4 linked regions of the Homo sapiens genome follow. The protein of the gene in region 1 purifies or fractionates together with the protein of each later gene. This does not show direct contact. Each region holds a gene or a part of one and is shown on either strand. Other genes may lie near its edges.

Evidence for each region.
Region 2: the proteins of DECR1 (region 1) and DGUOK fractionate together in Homo sapiens (co-fractionation; one large-scale study listed by BioGRID). This does not show direct contact.
Region 3: the proteins of DECR1 (region 1) and POGLUT3 fractionate together in Homo sapiens (co-fractionation; one large-scale study listed by BioGRID). This does not show direct contact.
Region 4: the proteins of DECR1 (region 1) and HEBP1 fractionate together in Homo sapiens (co-fractionation; one large-scale study listed by BioGRID). This does not show direct contact.

The regions. Positions count from the first base shown.
Region 1 is NC_000008.11:90,016,793-90,023,570, reverse strand, and holds part of DECR1 (2,4-dienoyl-CoA reductase [(3E)-enoyl-CoA-producing], mitochondrial isoform 1 precursor), read right to left. Parts: intron 6,448-6,778; coding exon 6,245-6,447; intron 4,663-6,244; coding exon 4,605-4,662; intron 4,486-4,604; coding exon 4,399-4,485; intron 2,663-4,398; coding exon 2,515-2,662; intron 1-2,514. UniProt on the Homo sapiens protein: Auxiliary enzyme of beta-oxidation. It participates in the metabolism of unsaturated fatty enoyl-CoA esters having double bonds in both even- and odd-numbered positions in mitochondria.
Region 2 is NC_000002.12:73,942,365-73,949,142, forward strand, and holds part of DGUOK (deoxyguanosine kinase, mitochondrial isoform a precursor), read left to right. Parts: intron 1-4,354; coding exon 4,355-4,542; intron 4,543-6,778.
Region 3 is NC_000011.10:108,471,616-108,474,384, reverse strand, and holds the end of POGLUT3 (protein O-glucosyltransferase 3 isoform 1 precursor), read left to right. Parts: 3' UTR 1-2,269; downstream 2,270-2,769. UniProt on the Homo sapiens protein: Protein glucosyltransferase that catalyzes the transfer of glucose from UDP-glucose to a serine residue within the consensus sequence peptide C-X-N-T-X-G-S-F-X-C. Can also catalyze the transfer of xylose from UDP-xylose but less efficiently.
Region 4 is NC_000012.12:12,992,156-12,998,933, forward strand, and holds part of HEBP1 (heme-binding protein 1), read right to left. Parts: intron 1-6,778.

The sequences.
Region 1 (6,778 bases):
TAGGAACCAGCAGAATCTAAGTTTTTACCTATTCAATATTTTAGTGAAGGTCCCATCCAATAAAATAAGGCAAGAAAGAAAATAAAAGGCTTATCAGTTGGGAAGGAAAATATAAAAACTGTCTTTTTTTCACCAACAGTATTACCAATGCAGAAAATCCAAAGGAATCTAAACAAAAAAAAACTGTAATAACCATTAAGTGAGTTTAGCAAGCTCCTAGGGAATACATCAATACACAAAACTAATCCATTGTATTTCTAAATACTACAAGAAAACACCTAGAAAATAACATTTAGAAAACAGTGCCATTTGCAATAGCACCAAAAATTTAAATACTTTGGGAGAAAGTTAACAAAACATGTACAATGCCCATGCAAAACACTGCTGATAGGAATTAAAGAAGACCTAAATAAATGGTGAGAGATACCACATTGAGAGACTGGAAGACATGATATTGTTAAAAATGTCACGCTTCAGTTCCTTGACTGTCGATCCAGTACCAGAACAAATCCTTTACCGCGTACTCCCCTCAGCTGAGTGGTCCAAGTTCTCCAAACTCTGTCAGCTTATAGCATCAATAACTGACAGGAATCTTGGAAGAATAAAAACTGGCTTCCATCTTTTAAAAAGATATTTTATCTAATATATTTTTAATGAAGCTCATAGAATTTTAATCCAATGTGATGAACAAAAATAGATCAGAGTCTATGTTAAAATGAAAGACAATAATGAGGGAAGAAGGGAGAGTCAGACAGAAATTGAGGGTCACAGAGATGAGCGAGGGAAGAAATAAGAGACAAAGAGGCAAAGAAGGACAAAGAAACGAAAGAGACAGATGAAGAGAGAAACAGAGAACCAAAAATGAGGAGCTGACAGAGGCAGAGCAGTAGAGAATGAAATGGAGATATCAGCAAGGGGTAGGGCGAGAGAAAATCAGACAGAGGCAGAGACACAGGAGAGATACAGAGATCAAGGTTCCTCGGACAGAGAAGGGAAGAGAGAGGAGTCACACTCTTCCCTGTCCCCCCTTCCCACTCTTATCCATCTTCCTGCCCCTCACTGAAAAAAAAAACATCAAATAAAACACTTATCCAAAATCCAATTATAAATCACATCCATTCTGCCATCATGGAAATGAGTAACCAGGAATTTCAATTTCAATGAGTGCATAGAAAGGATGGAAGCTATTAGTGTATGTATGTGAGCAGACACACACACACACAGAGCTAGTGCCTCTGTAGCATCTCTCTGTTCCTACAGCGTATCTCAAGCTGGTTCTAGGATCACCTGCGCTGCACAAAAGAAGAAATTGAACCTTATAAGGCAAAGGTTTCTGAACAGAGGGAGGAACCTAGCCAGCTCCATGCCCTCTTTCCTCCCCTCAACCCTCAAAGGACATCCTCTGAGGAGCATGAGAACGCTTCCTCATTTTCCTTGTTTAAAATACTCTCCACCTTCTCTGAGAAAATACCCGCACCCTTCAAGTTCCCCAAATTATTCAGGGACAGGGTCTTGTCCACCTCTGTGCTTTGAGCATGAGTATAGGGCCTGCTACCCAAAAGTCATTAGTAAGTGTCTGTCAGGTGAATAAATGTACGCTGGTTCTAGATATATATGAATATACACACATATATACATTAGACATGTTTGCTATCCATGTACATATGAACTTTTATAAAGTAATTCATTCATAATACTAACAAAAATGTTCTCCTAGTAAGTTCTTTCTAAATCTATTTTCCCTCCAGTGTTCTTAATCTCATTGGTATTATCATCCAGACTCTTCATCCCATCTAAAAATACTCTCATCAAATCAATAAGGCCTGTTGATCTTATTGTCTTCTAAATGTCTTCTACTTTATCTCCCATGCAATCTAGCCACCTGCTAAAAGAAAAATCAAATCCTCCTGAATGGCACTCCTTTTATCATCCATCTTGTTGTCACTAACCTTTCCAATCAAGTCGCATTCTTTGTTCCACCTTCAATGGAAATCTATACAAAAATACTTCCTATTTCTTTCAGAATTAACATTAAACTCCTTATTTTGGTATTGAGAACTCTCCCAATTACACTCCAACCCACCTTCCCAAAATCATTTCCTATTCCTTTCCCCATCTCTAATGACATCAAAGTTTTCATCATTCCCTATGTACTTATGTCCTCCTCTCCACCAGGCCTCTATCCATTGACATTCACATGTCCTTTCCCTCCTCTTTCTCCACATCTAGATCTTTGAACTTTCAGCTTAAGTTGCATCTTGTTCCTCAACCTGATCACTGACCCTAGGGAGAGTTAGTCATTCCTGTCTCTGGATTGCCAATGCACTTGAAACATATATTTATTACTGCTCAAATTGTAACATATGATAATTATTTAAATATCATTTTTCTCCATTACACTGTGAGTTGTACAAGTGTAGACTGTCTCATTGACTTTTAAAGTATCACAGAGCTTACCACAGAACCTTGCACACACAGAAGCCAAATAAATATGAGAAAAGCAAATAAACATACCTTTCTGTGCTTTAATTAGTTGTTTTCCAATTTCTAGTGTCACGAAGGCTGTGCCATTTAGAACTATGTCAGTTATGGTTTTCCAAGCATTAGGAGAAAGTCTTTCAGTAGGAGAAATAAAATTCCCTGCTGCATTGTTTATCACAATCTAATAAATGAACAAGGCAAGTTACAGAAACTTTAGATGAGGAAAAACATTTTCCCTGCAGGGTTTTTTTTCTGAAATGTATTAATAGAAATAATACAATAAAGTTGAAGTCCACAGCTACCTACGAAACAATACCATGAGATTTGGTAGTCTGAGTCTGTGAAAACCTCCTACGTTAGTTACCAAATTTCAGAATCCTAAGCCGTCTTTAAATTAGGGTAGATTCTCTTATTAAGAAAACTAAGGCTGAGTGCAGTGGCTCATGCCTGTAATCCCAGCACTTTGGGATGAGTTCAAGACCAGGCTGGGCAACAAAGCGAGACGTCATCTCTACAAAAATTTTGTTTTAAAAATTAGCTGGGTGTGGTGGCACGTGCCTGTATTCCCAGCTACTTGGGAGGCTGAGGTGGGAGTATCGCTTGAACCCAGGAGGTCAAGGCTCCACTGAGCCGTGATTGTGCCACTTGCACTCCAACCTGAGTGACAGAGCAAGACTCTGTCTCAAAATAAATGAATAAAATTTTAAAAGTTAAAAAAAAGAAAATTAATACAGATTAAACATATTTACCATGTGACTGCATTTTATTTCAAAGAATCTCAAGAAATGGCTTTTTGTTTCTGGTGTCATTTTAGTTTAACTTAACCAATGCAGCTTGTGGTTGATGATCTATTTACCATCAGTAAAGATTCTGGCTAGTTCTACAGGAGATTCAGTGTTACTGGTTCTGAAAATACCTTTAACATAGAAAAGTGCTATCTTTGAGACTACTGGAAGAAACGGCTTCTCTCCGATAAATGTACCAAGCAACAGCAAAATATTCATGCATATTTCAGGTCTTAAAAGGAGAAATTTTGAATTTCTTATAGTTTTTCATGTTTATATCGTTCTCCTCCACTGAGGAAGACAATCAAAAGTTACTAGGAGAAGCAAAAAGCATCAATCATTTAAACTCAATGCTGTACTCTTGGATAACTGCTCTTGTTATTTCATAATCTTATTAAATAAAGTGAAATCAAGTTTGTTTTCTGATCAATCATAAATGGATTCTTTAAGTATTCCTGAAAGGAAGTTGTGTAGCAGTCTTCCTACTCTGTTCTTTGCTTTAGCAGAACTGGCATTTTCCTAGGGATGGAAAATAGGTGCTTCTCAACACAGCACTTGCTCATATTGAGGTAGGAGGAGGCCTAACTCTGGAGGCAGAGTTCCATCACAGGACCAGAATGAGGACTAGTTAAACCAGGTCCTGGATGAAAGCACCCCCTCTTTAGACATACCCACCAATGCACCATGTTTGTTTACCATTGCCATGGCAATGTCAGCAAGTTACTGCCCTTTCCATGGCAACGAACTGATAACTCAGAAGTTACCAACCCTTTTCTAGAAATTTCTGCATAAACCTAATTAATTTGCAGGCAATTAAAAGTGGGTATAAATACGACTATAAAACTGCCTCTCAACTGCTATGCCCAGCACATTGACTATGGTGTTGCCCTGCTCTGAAGGAACAGTCACAGATCCATTCCACTGCTGCTGCTTCAATAAAGCTGTTCTCTTCTACCACCGGCTCATCCTTGAATTCTTTCCTGGGTGAAGCCAAGAACCTTCCCAGGCTAAGCCCCAGATTCGGGCTTGCCTGTCCTACATCAGTATCAATATTTTATTTCCTTTGTACATGTTGGTGGGTGTTATCAACATCAAGTGTCTTGCACTTTGGCTTCATCATTGCTACACTTACATTAGGATGTCCTGCAACTTTGATCAGTTCTGACACAGTGTTTTGAACCATATCAGGATCCCTCACATCACACTGAATTGCATGAACCTGCAAAATAACAAAAAGAATATGACATTTTCCAGCTTTCTTAAACCAAACGCATGAACAAATTATTTGAACATGTTATAATTCCTAAATCTAAATTAAATAACTGATTTTTAATGTACCTTATTTCCAGTTTGAGAAGAAATTTGTTCTGCGGTAGCTTTCAAAACATCCATCTTCCTAGAAATAAACACCTTGTATGACTTCATATTATATTTTTCAATTTCATAAATTGAAGAATACAGAGAATCCATAGCTTAAAGAAAAGCATTTCTGAGAAAGTATAGATGTTATTTATATACAAAAATCAATGTGAATTTTTTCTAAAAGTCAAATTTAGATCATTTTTATATATTTGATACTAACTTATTGAATTAGTCACTTTTAAACCAGTTTACTTTAACATTATCTACTCACAGATTTAAATTATTTCCTTGATAAGCCAGGTTTACAAAGAAAATATATTCATGGTATAATGTTAGTAGGTTTTGTACTAAATTTATGGGTTCAAAGAGACTACATTTATTCATGCAGTCTCACATTCTACAAAAAAAACTATGAATAGAAATTATTATTAAAATGAAAATAATATATTTAAACTCTTAAAAACATTACAATGTAAAAACAAAAAATATTCCGGACAATCTGCAATTGCAAATGACACAGTAACTGTTGTTTGGATGACTACTTGGCTTACCTAAAATTTTACACCATTCAAAATGGTGAAGGGGTGGATTTTTAAACCAGTCTCTAAAGCCTCAGACTTTGGAACAGAGTTTACAGGGTACCAGAATATGCCTAATAAGAAGAAATTCCTTCCACATGGTCTTACCCTTCCTATATTCATCACAATAACAGATATTTTGAAATACCTGTTTATTTTATAGAAAATGAAAGTACTGGCTGGGCGCGGTGGCTCACGCCTGTAATCCCAGCACTTTGGGAGGCCAAGGCGGGTGGATCACCTGAGGTCAGGAGTTCAAGACCAGCCTGGCCAATATGGCAAAACCCAGTCTCTACTAAAAATACAAAAAATTAGCCAGGTGTGGTGGCAGGCGCCTGTAATCCCAGCTACTCGGAAGGCCGAGGCAGGAGAACTGCTTGAACCCGGGAGGCGGAGGTTGCAGTGAGCTGAGATCATGCCACTGCACTCCAGCCTGGGCGACAAGAGCTGGACAAAACTCCACCTCACAAAAAATAAAAAATAAAATGAAAGTACTGCATCAATTTTCCTGGTATAAGGTTAATTATTAATTAAAGCAGTAACCATAATCACTCCCACTGAAGACAAAGCAACCTCCATATAGTGCTTAAAAAAAAAATGTTTCTTTTGAGACAAGGTCTCACTATGTTGCCCAGCTGGTCTCAAATTCTGGGCTTCAAGTGATCTTCCTGCCTCAGCTTCCCAGTAGCTGGGATTACAGGCACACACCATCCCACCTGGCTCCATGTCGTACTTTTTAACTTCATCTTCGTGTACAGAAAAAGAAATATTCTACCACTGAATTGGAGAAATTAAAATAATGAAAATTGCGGATGTTTACCCAAACATCAGTTCCACAATTTTCATTGTTTCTTTCATCTCAAATAGTACCTAACTTTTTCCAAAAAGATGTATTTAAATAATCTAAATAATATTTCTAGTATTTCATATAAGATTAAGATGCTAATCAAACAACTCTGGCGAACAGTGTTTTCAATACTATGGCACAGAACAGTTTCTTCAAAAGCGTCGCCAATAGGCTTGATGTAAGGGACTTACCGGCTGGCTATCACGCACTGAGCACCTAGGCTGGACAGAAGAGTTGTCATTCCTTTACCAAGGCCAGTACCTCCCCCAGTAATGAATGCCACTTTTCCTTGAAAACTATTAGGTGGTAGCATCGCTTTTTGAAGAGGTGAAAAGAATTTAGATTGCAAAGCTTCAGTGTTTTGATATAATATTTTTGTCCCATAACTGAAAAACTAAAAGGGGAAAATGAATTTAAATTTGCATACATATATTTCCAAAAAACAGATGAATTTTTTAAAACATGCTCTTGAATTTAATAGTAATCAAATTCTTGTATTAACACAAACTCACTGCAAACATATTGGTATTGTACTTAATTATTATTCTTTGTTTTCTGATTTAAAAAGCACAGGCTCTGGAGCTGGACTACATAGCACAGAATTTTCTCCCAAGCTATGTAACTTTCAGCAGGTTATTTGACCTCTCTGTGCCTCAGTTCCTTCATCTACAAAATGGGGACAATAAAATAAATTTCTTCATATGGCATTGTGAGGATTATATGAG
Region 2 (6,778 bases), on another chromosome or scaffold:
TGTTGCTTTTATGGTTTTATGTTTTATGTGGCTTTACAAGTTATAAGACTTTAGTTTTTTCACAAATGGTTATCTACTTAGCCAGTAGTATTCTTGTTTATTCCTGAGCAGAATATATATTTTGTTTTTATTGTGACTGAGATCTTTTTTCCACATCATCTTCTGAAACTGGTTATTGCTGTTTTAATGGAAAACAGTTGATTGTTATATTTATCTTATATGATTTAATTTCTCATTATTTTTTTATTTGCTTGAAGTTTTGGAAAATAATAGTTGTCTCTAAATAGTAATCATTTGAAAGAGTTTTCTAATATCTGTGCCACATTTCTATTTTCTTGTTTTCTTTCATTGGGTAGAACTTCCAGAGCAATATAAACTAATAGCAGTGAGGGTAGTTTCCTTATCTTGTTCTGTCATTAATGAAACTGCCTCTAATATATCAGTGTTAAGTTTAATGTTTATTATTCATTTCAGTAGACCGTGTGGTACACGTACCCTTTTGTTACTAGAATAGTAACTGTTTTTATCATGATCAAATGTTGAATTTCCATCAAAAACCACTTTAGCATCTAGTGAGATAAACAAGGGGTTTTTCTTTTTAATCTCTTAGTATTAGTCATAGATTTAATAATGGTACCATCCTCACATTTCTAGAATGAACTTTTTTTTGGTCATGATGTACTATTCCATTAATTTGGTAATGTGTTGTTTGGAATTTTGCATGTATATTTATTTATACAGTTGGTTGGTATTATTATTTGTGTGTATGGTGATTTTTGTTTGTTTTGACTTTTGGGTTCTTTTTAGGCAGGGTCTTCCTCTGTCACCCAGGCTGGAGTGTAGTGGCATGATCATAGCTCACTGCAGCCTTGAAGTCCTGGACTCAGGTATCTTCCCACCTCAGTCTCTTGGTGAGTTGGGACTATAGGTGCATACCACTGTCCCCATCTACTTAAAAATTTTTTTTTTTTTTTTTTTGTAGAGATAGGGTCTCACTTTGCTGCCCAGGCTGGTCTCGAACTCCTGGGCTCAAGCGACCCTTCCACCTCGGACTCCCAAGGTGTTGGGACCACAGATGTGAGCTGTGATGCCTGGCCCATGTGTAGTTTGTGACAGGTTTTACCATCAATGTTATGAAAATAAATGGAGAAATTTTGCATCTTTTCTAGCATAGAAATGATCTATTCCTTGAAGGTATGATAGAAATCATCTTTAAGATTATATGGATTCAGTACTGTTTGAGGGGAATCATTATTGGACAACTGTTTTCTGCCTCAGTTATTCAGGTTTTTTTTTTTTTTTAAGATGGAGTTTTGCTCCTGTTGCCCAGGCCAGAGTGCAATGGCACGATCTCAGCTCATTGTAACCTCCGCCTCCCAGGTTCAAGCGATTCTCCTGCCTCAGCCTCCCAAGTAGTTGGGATTACAGGCATACCACCATGCCCGGCTAATTTTGTATTTTTAGTAGAGACAGGCTTTCACCATGTTGGCCAGACTGGTCTCGAATTCCTAACCTCAGGCGATTCACCCACTTTGGCCTCCCAAAGTGCCGGGATTACAGGCATGAGCCACCATGTCCAGCCCCTAGGGAGAATTTCTTAAGCTGATACTCTTTTCTTTTTCTTTAAAGAGTCTCACTCTGTCACCCAGGCTGGAATGCAGTGGCCCTATTATAGCTCACTGCAGCATTGCTTCTCAGCCTTTTGGCTAAGATCAAGTGTATAGCTCACTGTAGCACTGAACTCCTGGGTTCAAGCAAATCCTCCCACCTCAGCCACCAGAGTAGCTGGGACTACAGGCATGCACCACTATGCCCAGGTAACTTTTAAATTTTTTTGTGGAGACAGAGTCTCACTATGTTGCCCAAGTTAGTCTTGAACTCTTGGCCTCAAGCAATCCTCCTGCCTTGGCCTCCCAAAGTGCTTGGGTTATAGGTGTGAGCCCCCATACCTAGCCCTTAAACTGATACTCTGTAAGGATCTTCTAATTCACTAATTAGGTTTACTGCATTATACAGTCTGCTAGCTACCATCTTCATTATCTTCATTGGGTGTTTTACTTGGGCAATTGCATTTTTCACCTCTAAGAAAGTTATTTTCTTATTGTTCCTTTTTTATGATAGCTTATTCTTGTTTTATCAGCAAGGCCGTATCTTTTGTTTTCTCCTGTTTCTGACAACAGCCCTGTCTGAGCACAGAGACTAGTCCTCTCCTTTTGAATTGCTAAGTATTTTTGTGTCCAATTATTGTTCATCTGTTTGCTTATATTTTTGGAAGGATGTTTGCATTTGTTCTGTAGCTGAGATGGGTTCTTTCAGAAATTGTGTTGGTTTCTTTTACATTTTTGGTTCCAGAAGAGTCTCTCTTTGATAGCCCAAAGCCCACTGGTGCAATAGAACCCACCAGTCAACCTATTGCATCTGCCAGCACAGCACTCCGCTCCACATACAGTGTGTGAATTGTGCAACAGGCCCAGGGCTGCTCCCAACCATCTCTAGTGACACCACAGAGACTACAGGAGACACAAATTTGTCCTCCTACTTCTACCTCCAGCTCTTAGTCAGGGGCCACGTGTGAGGCTGGTATGTGTGGGCTTGCGGGGTCAGAAGGAGGGAAATCCCGAAAATACCTCTGAGTTAAATGCTTTTCTGGTCCACTCTGCTCTATATGTGTTGTTTCTGCTGAAGCCTTTCAAAGGGCTAAGACCCTTCTTTGGAATCTAATAGTGCTATTTTGCCAAATTGGACTTCTTACTGTTGTTGAATCTTTTTTCTCCTTCTGTCCTGTTGTCTCTACCTGAAGTACAATCTTCTTAATCTCCATTTCCATCTGTGAGAATTCTACTCATCAGTTACTTCCCAGCTTAATGCCACTTTCTTTCAGAAACTCCCTGAGATTCCTTCCACCATCAGTAATCGTCCCTTCATCACATGTTCTGCCTTACATTCCAGCTTCGTACATCCTCATCACCCTCTTCCTTTTTGCACTGTGAGCTCTTTGAGTTCAGGAACTGTCTTGTTCACCTTTAGATGGAGGGTGTTGGAATGATGAGGTTAGAGGAAGCCAGGTTTGAGTCCCTTCAACATTTACTCGCCATGAAACCTTGCACAAGTAAGTTACTTAACCTCTGAGTGGATTTTCCCCTCTGGAAAATGGGCATTACAACAGTACCTACCTCATGAAGCTGTTTTGAAGATTAATTGAGGTAACATACCACAGTAAAGGTTGAAATAAATGTTAATTCCTTTTTCTATACCCTTACGGTACCCTGCCCATGTAGCGCCTCATCCACACAGGCCTTCAGTGATTGGTGATTGAATAAAAAATACAGATCCAAAGTGCTTTTGTACAAAATTCACTTTTGCATTGTTGAGTCAATGGCAGATCCAGAAAAGAATCTGGGGCTGGGCGTGGTGGCTCACGCCTGTAATTCCAGCACTTTGGGAGGACAGGAGTTCGAGACCAGCCTGGCCAACATGGTGAAACCCTGTCTCTACTAAAAATACAAAAATTAGCTTGTCGTGGTGGCGGGTGCCTGTGATCCCAGCCACTCAGGAGGCTGAGGCAGGAGAATCACTTGAACTCGGCTGGGGTGGGGAGGAGGGCGGAGGTTGCAGTGAGCCGGGAGGTTGCAGTGAGCTGAGATCGTGCCACTGCACTCCAGCCTGGGTGGCAGAGTGAGACTCTGTCTCAAAAAAAAAAAAAAAAAATCCGGGGCTGCTGAACATCCCACACTTGTGCCCACTTGCACATGCCGAGTAAGTGGAACGTTTTAATTATGTTTCATAAAGTCTCTAGAATTAAGTAGGGTTTTGTTTTAACAAACAAATTGTACTCCTTATATGAAAGATAAAATTCTATTTGGTGGTTGATTGGTTGGATTTTCAAATAAGCAGTTGCTTTCTGGTTTGCCTTGACATTTTATAAACATAACTACAGATGGAAGCTCAAAAGAGAGGCAACATAGTGTTATAGTGGAAAGATTTGATTCAGAGTTAAATTTTAGATGGTTGTTGACTGTTAACTCCTCCCCAGACAGACTTCACAAATCCCTCAATCAGTGATCGTGTTAATTCTATATATGGTTCTTCCTCTGCTTTTGTTATATTGAAGTGGCATGTCATCTCCCTTTAGAGAGTCTTATTTAATAGGTAGGAAAATCTCATACCTGATTATGAAATTTTGACTAAGCTGGGGATCTGATTCTACCTTTTTGGTGGAAGGAAACTTTTGTAATTTCTTCTTTCATTGATTATTAAACCTGTTTGGGGAGGTAGGGGTGTGTGTGGAGGGGTGTACCCCATGGAGTAAATATGCTTTCTAGGAAATTTTCTTCTTTTTTTCATCTCCCTCTAGGCCTGCACTGCCCAAAGTCTTGGAAACTTGCTGGATATGATGTACCGGGAGCCAGCACGATGGTCCTACACATTCCAGACATTTTCCTTTTTGAGCCGCCTGAAAGTACAGCTGGAGCCCTTCCCTGAGAAACTCTTACAGGCCAGGAAGCCAGTACAGATCTTTGAGAGGTCTGTGTACAGTGACAGGTAAAATGCCAAGCCCTCCACCAGTCACAAGCCCCATGCTCAGTGCTGCCTGTTTGATCTTGCACAGATCCTGCACTGCTATGGTCACTGATGATTATAATTTGAAAAATTATCTTCTTTTTTAAAGACAACACTATACAGATTTGTCCAGAGTTGTACTTCTACCAGATTGTCATCTATGTCAAGAAAGGAAATTGGGTTTTTCATCAACTGAATGCTTTGAATTTCTTACATTGCTACTGATTACCTTATGTTTCCTTATTTTCTGGCATGGAGCAAGCTGGTAGCCACCTAATGTAACCATCACATGCTAAAAGGCACATAATAGACACTTAAGTAGCAGTGTATATTCTAAGAAATCAGATGATTCAGTGGTTGATTATCCCCTTTAAGAAAAAAGCAGACGAAATTAAAATTTGTGTTCCTGAAAATGATATAAGAGATATTTTCAGCCTTTTTTTTTTATTGTTCAAGAAAGGATGCTTAGGCAGAAATAGCACATCTGAGAAACTGGCTTCTGTCTCAGATTTAGCCCTTTTTGACCCCTTCTTCTGTGAGAGGGCTTTTTGCTGGCCAGAGTCTAGTGGACATCAGTGCCTGTGTCAGATCAGGGATGGGCATCATCCTGACCACCTGAGGGAGTGAGATGTGAAGTCACTTTGAATGCAAGCTAGCAGCACCCTGGGAAGTGAGCCCATCTGCTCCAGAAGAGCTAGGCCGTGCAGGCTCCGGAATGCCTGGCTCTGCTGCAGAGACCAGGCTGTGACTTGAGGTTAAGCCGCCTAGAGACAAAGTCAGGATGGCTTGATCTGGACACTGCTGGAGTTTTTCTTATCTGAAGCCTATGAATGACCAGTGTCAGTGTGAAATAGTGCTTTCAAGCAAAACGATCTTTCTTAAGGCTCTTTGAATTATCAAAATGGGAAGTGGTACATTTTCATTGTCACTGCTGAAGACACTCAGTTGGTTACTCTTTTAATTCCAAATTAGACAAACTAGTTCTATTTCTTAGTGCTTCCGGAAAGCCTCCTAGAAGAAAAAAAATAAGGATACATTTGTAAATGACAAGTGATTTTTCTGACTTTACCCTAAAATCATGGAAGATATGTAAAACAAACCCTATAGGCTATCCGTTCCTTGTGTACGTACCCCGAGAGAGCCTACTTTTTATAAAAGCTAAATATGTGAATTACAAATGGCTGGGCTATAGGTTTTACTTCTTTTTCAGCTGTTGGATATCCCACCTGCCTGTTTTCCTCTCTTCTCTCCCAAGCCATGCCTCTCGGACTCCGAAGTTGAATTACATATAACCACATGGGTTGTTTGGAAACATAGTCAGTCTTTATTTCTAGCCGCTTCATGAAGTAGGTGTGTGAGACCCTCAGAGGAAAATAGAGAAGTAGAAACACTTTGTTAATTAGAAATGCATTAAGAAGCTGCATGGATCTTAACCTTTGCTTGTAAAGGAAGAGGTAATAATTGATTACACTGTGGGCATACAACATTCCAGGTGCTATCTTCAGTGAGGGCATTTTCGAGACAGAAAGGAAAACTAATCACAAGTTCTAATCCCGAGGGTAATTTAGACTTTGTTCACTTGCACAGATTTATTGGATGCCTCCTGTGTTGAAGCACCAAGGCTGGCCCTGGGGCTGCAGCAGTGAATAAGGCAGACCCAGTCCCTGCCTAACAGGGACTGAACACATGCTCACGTGTGTGATATTTGTTCCAAAGGAGGAACACAGGTTATCTGGGAGAGTTGATTATAGCGAGGAAGAAATCTTAGTCTTTTCTGTTTGAGTTAAAGGAAACATTAGCATATGGTTTTAGAGCAGAGGCCCTGACTCCTAGATCCTTATGCCCTGTTCTGTCCTGCAGCCCCTGCATTCAGTCTGCAGTACTTCCCTCCCACTCAGCACCACACCCTTCTGCCCCTCACCCCATCACCACCACAAGCTTTGAAGAAATAAAGGAAGTGCTCTTTCTCAAGAAAGCCAAGAACCCCTTTCATAGGGCTTATTAGCAAATCTTTAATTTCTCTTTATAAGATCCTTTTTTGTTTTAAGACAGAGTCTCGCTCTGTCGCCCAGGCTGGAGTGCAGTGGTGTAATCTTGGCTCACTGCAACCTCCGCCTCCTGGGTTCAAGCAATTCTTGTGCCTCAGTCTCCTGAGTAGCTGGGATTACAGGGACACGCCATCATGCCTGGCTAATTTTTGTGTTTTTAGTAGAAACGG
Region 3 (2,769 bases), on another chromosome or scaffold:
TGGATTTTGGGGTATTTCAGATTTTAGATTTTTGTATGAGGAATGTTCAACCTGTATTTGAACAAGCATTACCAAATATCATTGAATATTAATATCTTTTGCGTAAAAACTGCTATTATCAGCATCATAGTTTCTCTAAAAAGAAAACTTGGGGATCATAGCCGATAGAGAGACTTGCTAAAATATAAATCAGCCTCTGCAAAACTGTTTACATATTTATTGGTTTACATATTTTATTGGTTTATTTCTATCCCCTGTTCACTTTTTCTCTTCCACTTCCAATTATGAAGAGAAAATATTTGTTCAGGGTTGTCCCCCCGCCCCCCGTCACTGCATAATTTCTCCTCTTACAAGCTGCTTTTGGCTTTCATTAATAACAGCTTCCTTTTAGAAGGTCTGATAAGGATATTTAAGGAAGAAGAGAATGACTCTGTTATTAAAGGTGGCATGGAGACTGTGGAGGGAATATTTTTTAAAGCACTACTCATATCCTTTAAACTAAATTTTGCCAAAGCCCGAGACAACATTAAGGAGAAATTGTACCTTAAGTTAGTAATTCCAAATCTATCTGAGTTGTATACCCATCAAAGACAATACAGTTATTAACATAGATGAAGGTATGCTATAGGCATCATTCATTATCTCTATATTGAATAGGTGAAAGATAACTGTAGTCAGGTGAAAGGCATTCATTATTTTTAAGCTGAAAAGGGGATCCTTGAAAACACTGAAAACCTCTACAACAATCTTCAGGAAGCCTGCTATCTTGGGATTCACTAATAATAGGCCAAGAACAAAGGCAAGCATCCATTCCTCACTCCACCACTTTTCTATTTCAGTGGGTGTCGTTGCTACGATGAAGACTTTGGAAATTTCCTTTCTCTTTTAGGACAGGGTCAGGATTTAGGACTCATAGCCTGAAAGCTCATTACATACTCCTTGTAACCATCAGTCCAAGGTTCAGTTCACTAAAGTGCATGTTCTAAAACAAGAGCTATCCTCATTCCAAATTTTAAAATATGTACTCTGGCCGGTTGCAGTGGCTCACGCCTGTAATCCCAGCACTTTGGCAGGCCGAGATGGGCGGATCTTTTGAGGTCAGGAGTTTGAGACCAGCCTGGCCAACATGGTGAAACCCCGTCTCTACTAAAAATACAAAAATTAGCCAGGCATGGTGGCATTTGCCTGTAATCCCAGCTACTCGGGAGGCTGAGGCAGGAGAATCACTTGAACCTGGGAGGCAGAGGTTGCAGTGAGCTGAGATTACACCACTGCACTCCAGCCTGGGTGACAGAGTGAGACTCCATCTCAAAAACTGAAAATAAAAATAAAAATATGTATTCTCCTAACTGAAATATTTACTTAATCTGGAAAACAATGTAACTATTTTTAAAGTGGTTACATCTATTCTTGCTGAAGAACAATAAACAGAATTTTTTGACTAAGCATAACCAAATTTCAGAACAGTCTAATCAATGCCAAGTATCCAAGGCAAACTCTAATACCCATCCATTGTGCAAAACCACAAGCACGCAAGTATTAAATAAGAGCAAGCTGTCCTGAGCCCATACCTAATGAATTTGTGTCTTAAATATTGTACATTGTGTTTGAGGCTTGTCAAAACTGGGATTATGGCAAGAAAGGTTGCCTAACTCATACCTTTCTGCCTCAAATTCCAGGTGCTAAAGGCTAATGGCATTTTAAACATCTTACATTTTTAAAAATTTATATTGCCTCTGCCAAACAGGCCTAATAGTTAAAAGCAAGTTGAGACAAACCAGGCAGATTCAGTGTGTGGAACAGGAAGGATGTGCTTTAAAAAAAGGTGGAATCCCTCAAAAAATTCTATAGGGAGACAGCAGCCTTAATCTACATAATTCTTCATCTCGCCAATTCAGCCGCAGCCTTTAAAGAGTTAGTGTTAATGGCTTTCTGGTTTGAAAACAAAAATGCATCTATGTGGTTGAAAGTTTGGGAGGAGATTCACCAATATCTGAGGAGAAGATGGAGTGAAGGGAATTCTTACTTTTTGCTTTATACCTTTCTATAATATTTAGATTTTTTTTTACTGTAAGTATGGATCAAATTGCAAAATAAAGAAAAATGCCAACCTTAGAAAAGACAATAAATGCACAAAAGATATAAACAGGAACAGCAAATATTTATATTTTTTCCATTTTGCTCTTTTTAAATCTATGTTTAGAACTTTATATCTTGGGACTTATGTATATATATACCTTTTAAATAAAATAAATTTTCTAAATAAAAAGTTGAAAAAGATACCTTTTGTTTTTTAAGAAAGAGGTTGTAACCACTTATAGCCCTGGTATTTCTGTAACTGCATTGGTCTAATTTTGATTCTATTATGTCTTCATGAGTAAATGAACCAAAATCACCACTCAGTCCCTAAAGGGCAGAAATCTATAATAACATTAGAAGAAAGAAAAGGCCAGTCACGGTGGCTCACACCTCAGCACTTTGGGAGGCCGAGGCAGGAGGATCACTTGAGCCCAGGAGTTTAAGACTAGCCCTGGCAACATAGTGAGACCCTCAACTTTACAAAAGAAAAAATTTAAAAATTAGCTGGACATGGTGGTGAACACCTGTAGTCCCAACTACTTGGTAGACTGGGGTGGGATGACTGCTTGACCCCAGGAGTTTGAGATTACAGTGAGCTATGATCATGCCACTGCACTCCAGCCTGGACAACAGAGCAAGATCCTGTCTTGAAACCACCTCTGCAAAAATTATAAATGAGAAAATCATTAC
Region 4 (6,778 bases), on another chromosome or scaffold:
AGGACTGTACGGCTGTGAGTGGCAAGTGTAGTCTCAATGAGCATATTTAATATTTATTTTATTTTTGAGACAGAGTCTTGCTCTGTCACCCGGGCTGGAGTGCAGTGGTGTGATCTCTGCTAAGAGCAACCTTCACCCCCCAGGTTCAAGTGATTCTTCTGCCTCAGCCTCACAAGTAGCTGAGACTACAGGCGAACGCCACCACTCCCAGCTAATTTTTGTGTTTTTAGTAGAGATGGGGTTTTGCCACATTGGACAGACTGGTCTCGAACTCCTGACCTCAGGTGTTCTGCCCACCTCGGCCTCCCAAAGTGCTGGGATTACAGGTATGAGCCACTGTGCCCGGCCTTAATATTGTAATTTTAACCCTGAGTGCCAAGTTTGTACTTAAATCCCCCTTCACATGGGGTAGAGGAAATTGCGCCAGACCAGGAATCATGAGGCAGCAAGTCAGCCTTGACTGTGGGGCACCGTGCTGAATCATTCTGAGGCTGCTGTGAAGCCCTCCATCTGGTGAATCTGACACTTCCAAAGAGCCTTCAGTAGCAAACTGTTAAGTAAACTTAGGGTGTTTTGCTCTTTCTGTTGCTGCAGAGAATTCCAGAACTCCCCTTTCATTTGAGAGCGCACCTACCCTTGGCACTTGTAATGTTTTAAATTCCAGAAACACTATCCTGTGAATCACAGAAGTTCAGAACCTAAAATGGTTTTAAAGTTTACCTAATCTAACTAATTTTATCAAGGAGAAAATGAAGAACCAGAGAGACTAAGTTGCTCAAAGTGATGTAACTACTGAATGGTGAAACTGAAACAAAAATTCCAGTTCCCAAACTCTAGTCTACTCCAGTCTAATACTCGTTGCAAGGTTCTCTAAAGCTATGGGGGGTGAAGTGAGCATTTAAACCTCTGTTTCTTTTCTTTATCCTCCTTTCTTTCCTCTCTCTGTCTTTCTTTTTTTCTTTCGTTTCCCCCTCCCTCCCTCCCTCCCTCCCTTCCTTCCTTCCTTCCTTCCTCTCTCTCTCTCTCTTTCTTTCTCTTTCTTACAGGGTCTCATGGTTGCTCAAGCTGGAGTGCAGTGGTACAATCTTGGCTCACTGTAACTTCAGCCTCCTGGGCTCACGTGATCCTCCCACCTCATCCTCCTAAGTAGCTGGGACTACAGGTGTGTGCCACCATGCCCAGCTAATTTTTTTTGTATTTTGTTTTCTCTGTCTTCTTTTGTAGAGACAGGGTTTCACCACGTTGCCCAAGCTGGTCTCAAACTTCTGAGCTCATGCGATCCACCTATGTCAGCCTTCCAAAGTGTCTTTGCTTTTTTTTTTTTTCTTTTCCTCTCTCTCTCTCTCTCTCTCTCTCTCTCTCTTTCAGATGGGGTCTTGCAATGTTGCCCAGTCTGTAACCTCTCTCTTTAGCCACTGTGTTAGATACTTTGGGCGGACAGTTGTATGCCCATATCAAATTCAGAATAGAGGTATCAGAAGTCATTTTACGCAGTTACTTCTTTTACAAATGGGAAGACCAAAAACAAGATCTCACTGGAGAAAGAGCTAACTGGCTCTTTCCTTTGGTCTTTTTCTTCTTTTATTCATTTAACCAACAACTACTGAGTATCTACCATGTGCTGAACATTGTTACAGGTGCTATAAGGGAAGATGCCAGGAAAACAGAATGTTATCATCTAATGATATTTTTAGGGGGCAAGGAGTGCCAGGGCAGTATGGGAACACAGGAAAGGACCACTTAGGTTAGTTTATGGGGCATGGGTGTATGTGATAACATGTTTGGGGAGGTCAAGCTGACTTTGAGGTGGTCACAGATCACCCAACCGGACGTTCAGTCACTACTTTATTAATTCATGGAATAAACATTGTCGAAAACCTTTGCCAGGTGGTACAGATTTGGAGATTAATATGATAGGGATAATCAGGAGGATGGTGAGGAGTATTACACAAATTATTGTACAATGCAGTAAATGCTCTGATCATTTGGGGAGGATATTCCAGGTAGTGGGTACCATAAGAGTAAACGAGGAGGGGTCAAGAACAGTATGATGACTGTGAGTACAAATATTACAAATAGTTGTGGCTGGAGCAAAGACTGTCAAGCAGGACACAAAAAAGGTGTTCTGGCAGGGGCCAGATCTCAGAAGAACTCAGAGGCTGTTGTGGGAGTTGGATTTTGTAACCATTAGTCCAGTGATGGTGATTTGATAGCAAGCCAGTTCATCTACTCTAAATTAGTTCAACTGACATTTGTGACCTAAACATAGGATTTTGCAAGTATGTCTGGGTCTTGAATGGAGGGTCTCTGCAGCAGAAAAGAGATCTATAAAATGGCACGAGCAACCTGTGCTCTTGGCCTGTTCTCCAGGCACAAAGTCCACAGCAAGGAAAGAAAGGCTGCCAAGAAGGGACTCCAGCTTGACTTGGAGAGCCAAGTCCCCCATGATACACCTATCATCCTTCAAGGCTTGGCTCAACTTCACCACCTCCTCCTCCTGAGTGATCCCTCCTTTCTAGGAACCCCTAAAGTCAGATAACTCTAGAGCTGGAAGGGGTCTCATGTGTCCATCAGTTCATCTCCTCCTGATACAGATGAGCAAACTGTCCATTGGGTAGTTGGGCACACAGGTCTGGAGCTCAGCAGGGGACTGGCATAGAGGCGTAAATTTGGGAGTCATTAGCATAAGGGGAGACTAGAGCTGTGAATGAGGTTGGGATTGTCCAGAGAGCATATATAGGGCACTCTACACCAATCTAACTGTGTTAATTAATCTGCTGCCTAAAGGCATTCATTCATCAAGTTCTTAACCTGCCCTTGATGATGCAGGCACCACTGAGCTTCTACCTACGTTGCCAGCCACACTCACAGCACCTGCTCTGCAGCTTTCTGCTGTTTCCTTTGATGCCATGGTCATTTCCACGCCAGGGCCTCTGTGTCTGCTGCTCCCTCTCCCTGGAGCATTCTCCTCCTGCCTTTGCCTGGTGTCTCCCTATTCATCTAACAGGCTCCAACCTAAAAGTTACTTCCTCAGAGAGGATCCTGACTTAAAATAGGTTCCCTGTGATATTCTTACCCACGCTGTACCTTCATAACACAATACTTATTGTAATTACAATTAAATGATGTGTTAAACTCCCACCTCCACCCACAAGCCCCACAGGGTAAGGACTGTTTCTCTTGTTCACCGCTGTATCTCTCTGTACCTAGATGTACCACGCCTTGCATATTGTAGGCACTCTACAAATATTTGTGAGAAAGGAGATATGCAGAGTAAAACCTAGTTTTACTCTAATGACAAGGAATACAAGAGCCATAATAGATGGGCAGAGAGATGAGGACCTCGTCTAATAGGATCTCCTGGAGAAAAGCTGGGCCACAATGTATTAAACCAGTTCTAGTGCAGGGATCACTTGTTTTCATAGCATCTGTATCCATAACCACTCATTTGAACCACGGGACCACTGTGAAAATTCAGGCTTAAGAGATGGATTTGTAAAACTATTCTAGTTCTCCAGGGAGCTCTATTTAAATGTATTTAACCAGAATTCTCTACTGCTGTAGAGAATAAGGCAGCTAAGTTAATACAGTCTTGATTCTTAAAATTTAACATCTTTAGTGCATTTGCTTGTGACATGGAACACAATAGTAGCCCTCCTTCACCCCATCTCCATTAGTCTATGCTCCCAATCAGTTCCTAGATGGAGATTTTGGCCTGTGGCTACAAAAACCAATTTTCAACATTCAGTGGGAACCTTGGTCAAGTTCAAGTCCCAGACAAAGGTTTAACAAGAATGCCTCTGGCTATGGGATTTGTAAGTCCTTTGAAAGGTCAGTTTTTTTCTTGCCACTTCATGTAGTGGGTATACATGCTAATGTTGGAAACCTGCTTTCTCATTACAAGAAAATACTGATCATAACAATTAACCTAACAGAGTACTTTCTATTTGTCTGGTGTTATTTTAAATGCTTTACGTGGATTCATTCATTCAATTTCTCCAATAACCCTGTGAAGAAGTTAGGGCTTTAATCTTCATTTTCAGATGAAACTGGGGAACAAGAGGTTAAGTAACATGCCCAAACTGCAGCGGGTGAATAGTGGAGCCAGGACTCAAAGCCAGGCTATCAGGTCCTAACCTGTGTGCACAGGCCGGACACAAATCTGATTAAGGATGTCAGTTACTAATATCAGTTCTGCTGTGAGCATCCAAAGGCCCACCCAATCCAACACAGAGAGCTGTCTACCCTCCTCCCTCCCTGAGCAATTAAGAAGGCACCTGATAAGGTCTGCGGCAGCACTGGCCTCCCTGCCAAGTACTTGGAATCAGTCCCCAACATCTGGTGAGCCTGAAGCCCATGCTATGTGGGGAATATGGTATGCCATCATTTGCCCAGGAGAGTGGACAATAGTTTCTGACCCAGGCTGTTTCCAGGATAAAATATAATTTCAGGGAGAGGTTCTCTTCAAAAATAATACCTTTATGTTTGTATATTTAAAAAAAAAAAGGTTTACAAGTATCTATGCATAATTAATTAATTTCACATTGGCATTGTTATTCTCATCTTAGAGTTGAGGAATTCAAGGGCTCACGGGATGTTAAGTAATTTACCCAAACTTTACTGTAAAACTACAGTAAAGCTAACCATTACCATCTCCAACCAAGTACTAACATTGAACAGTTTTATAATTGGTTATCTCATTTGAACTTCAAAACAATCTATTAATATATGAACTATTATTTTCTTCCACAATTAGCTTCAGAGGGGCTAAGTTGGCCTGTGACCACACAGCTAGAAAGAATGAAGCTGAGATGAGCACTGATATAATGCTATTACTATATTTGTAGGGTATGTATACTACTTTACAAAATGTTTTCATGGTTTTAAAGAATTTAATACTTATAGTAACTCTGGAAATAGATGGAAAAGATATTTTTATACTCATTTTATAGCTGTAGAAACAGGTTCATTTGGGTTAAATGATTTGCTTTAGCCTGGTACCAATATCCCATATGGCCCCATATTCCCATCAAACACTGAGAGAAGATGCTTATTAGGGAGTTCTCCTTATCCCAGAGGCCCCAAATTAACGGCAAGTGACACTGTATCAATAAGAGTCAAACAGGAAACAGAAACTACTAGAGTATTTAGAGCAGAAGCACTTCGATGCAAGGGATTGGTTGCACAGATAACAGAGGGGCTGAGATGCCAGCAGGGGACAGAGAGGCAACCTAGAGGTTAGTAAGCACCCTAGGAGACACAGAGGGAGAATTACCTGTTACCTAAGTTCAGATACCTAGGTTACTGGGTAGAAGCTAGAATCATGGTGGCCTGTGTAGCGGAAGCCAAAGCCACAGAGAAGCTCCTAGTAGTATGGATCTGATGGGGTGGAGAAGGAGGAGAAATACTCTGGTTTCTCCCTTTTTATCTCCCAGTAGAGACTCCCACTGAGCAAACGTAGCTGGGCGCCGGCTGACATCTGGCCTGGGAAACAGGCCGAATGGGTCAGCTTCCACTCCACAGGAAGACAGCAGAGCAGGGAATGGGTGAGGAAGGAATCTGAGGGCACAGGCCACGAACCAGCCCAGACCCCTCTCCGCCTGTGTGGGCCATCATCATTAATCCAAAAAGACAAAGTGAGCCCCATTCCATGACAAAAGCAAGAACACATGGATTCTTAAAGTGTTAGAATCACAGGAACCTTCATCAGGGCTGTTAGGAGAAAGGCTGTGGTTCTGAGTAGGGCAACTACTTGATGGGGAGGCCAGTGATGCTGCAGACCTTATCAGGTGCCTTTTTCATTGCCCAGGGAGGCGGATAGACAGCTCTCTGTGTTGGCTTGGGTGGGTCCTTTGGATGCTCACAGCAGGACTGATATTAATAACTGGCATCCTTATTGCATTTGTGTCCAGCCTATGCACAACTATGTCAGTTTCCCTACTCAAAATCACAGCCTCACTCCTAATACTCCCTATTCCTCACTCCCCTGCTTGCTTTTCTTCACAGCACTGATCACTATCTGATCCATGATACATTTTATTTGTTCATTAGCCAATAAAACATAAGTTCCATGAGGGCAGAGAATTTTGCTGGTTTTAATCTTTTATCCCATTGCCTAGAAGAGTGCCTGGCACATAGCACTCAAAAAACAGTTTTTGTCGAATTATTTTTAAATTGGGTGATTTCGCTAAGAATCTGGATGTATGGTTTTCCTTAAGAATTTGGCAACACTGTTTCATATATCACTGCATAGCAACAAGTGGCTGGAACTGCCGTTTAGAGATGGGGACCTGAGTTCACTCTCTGATTTGCCTCAGTCCCCACTATGCCTTATAGCCTAAAACAGCCAGCTTCATCCATTTCCATTACCTGCCTGGTTGCTGCAGGTATTCAAATGTGGGACCTCTGATCAGGGCTAAACTGTTCATTCTACATAGAGCTGGGGAAACGGAGATAAGAACAGGTGAAAGGTCTTTGGTTGTCAAAGAGTTCAGATTAGAGTCTAATTGAGGGCTTTCGTGATATGAAGATCATTGTACTAGGTATCAGAACTTGGCCCCCAGGCAATACAGTCCTTTCACAAATGAGGCATCGTATTGGGAGCTCTGTATACAGCTGCACTGTTTAAACTACCTGTCCACCAGGAGATTATAATCTAGCAGCACTCTCCTTGTTTTCAGGGGTGCAGTCCAGTTAGCCCATGTTAGCACTGATATAAATTTGGGGGAAGACAGCAATTATGCTCTTCTCACTCATTCTGTATTCTAGGTACCCAACT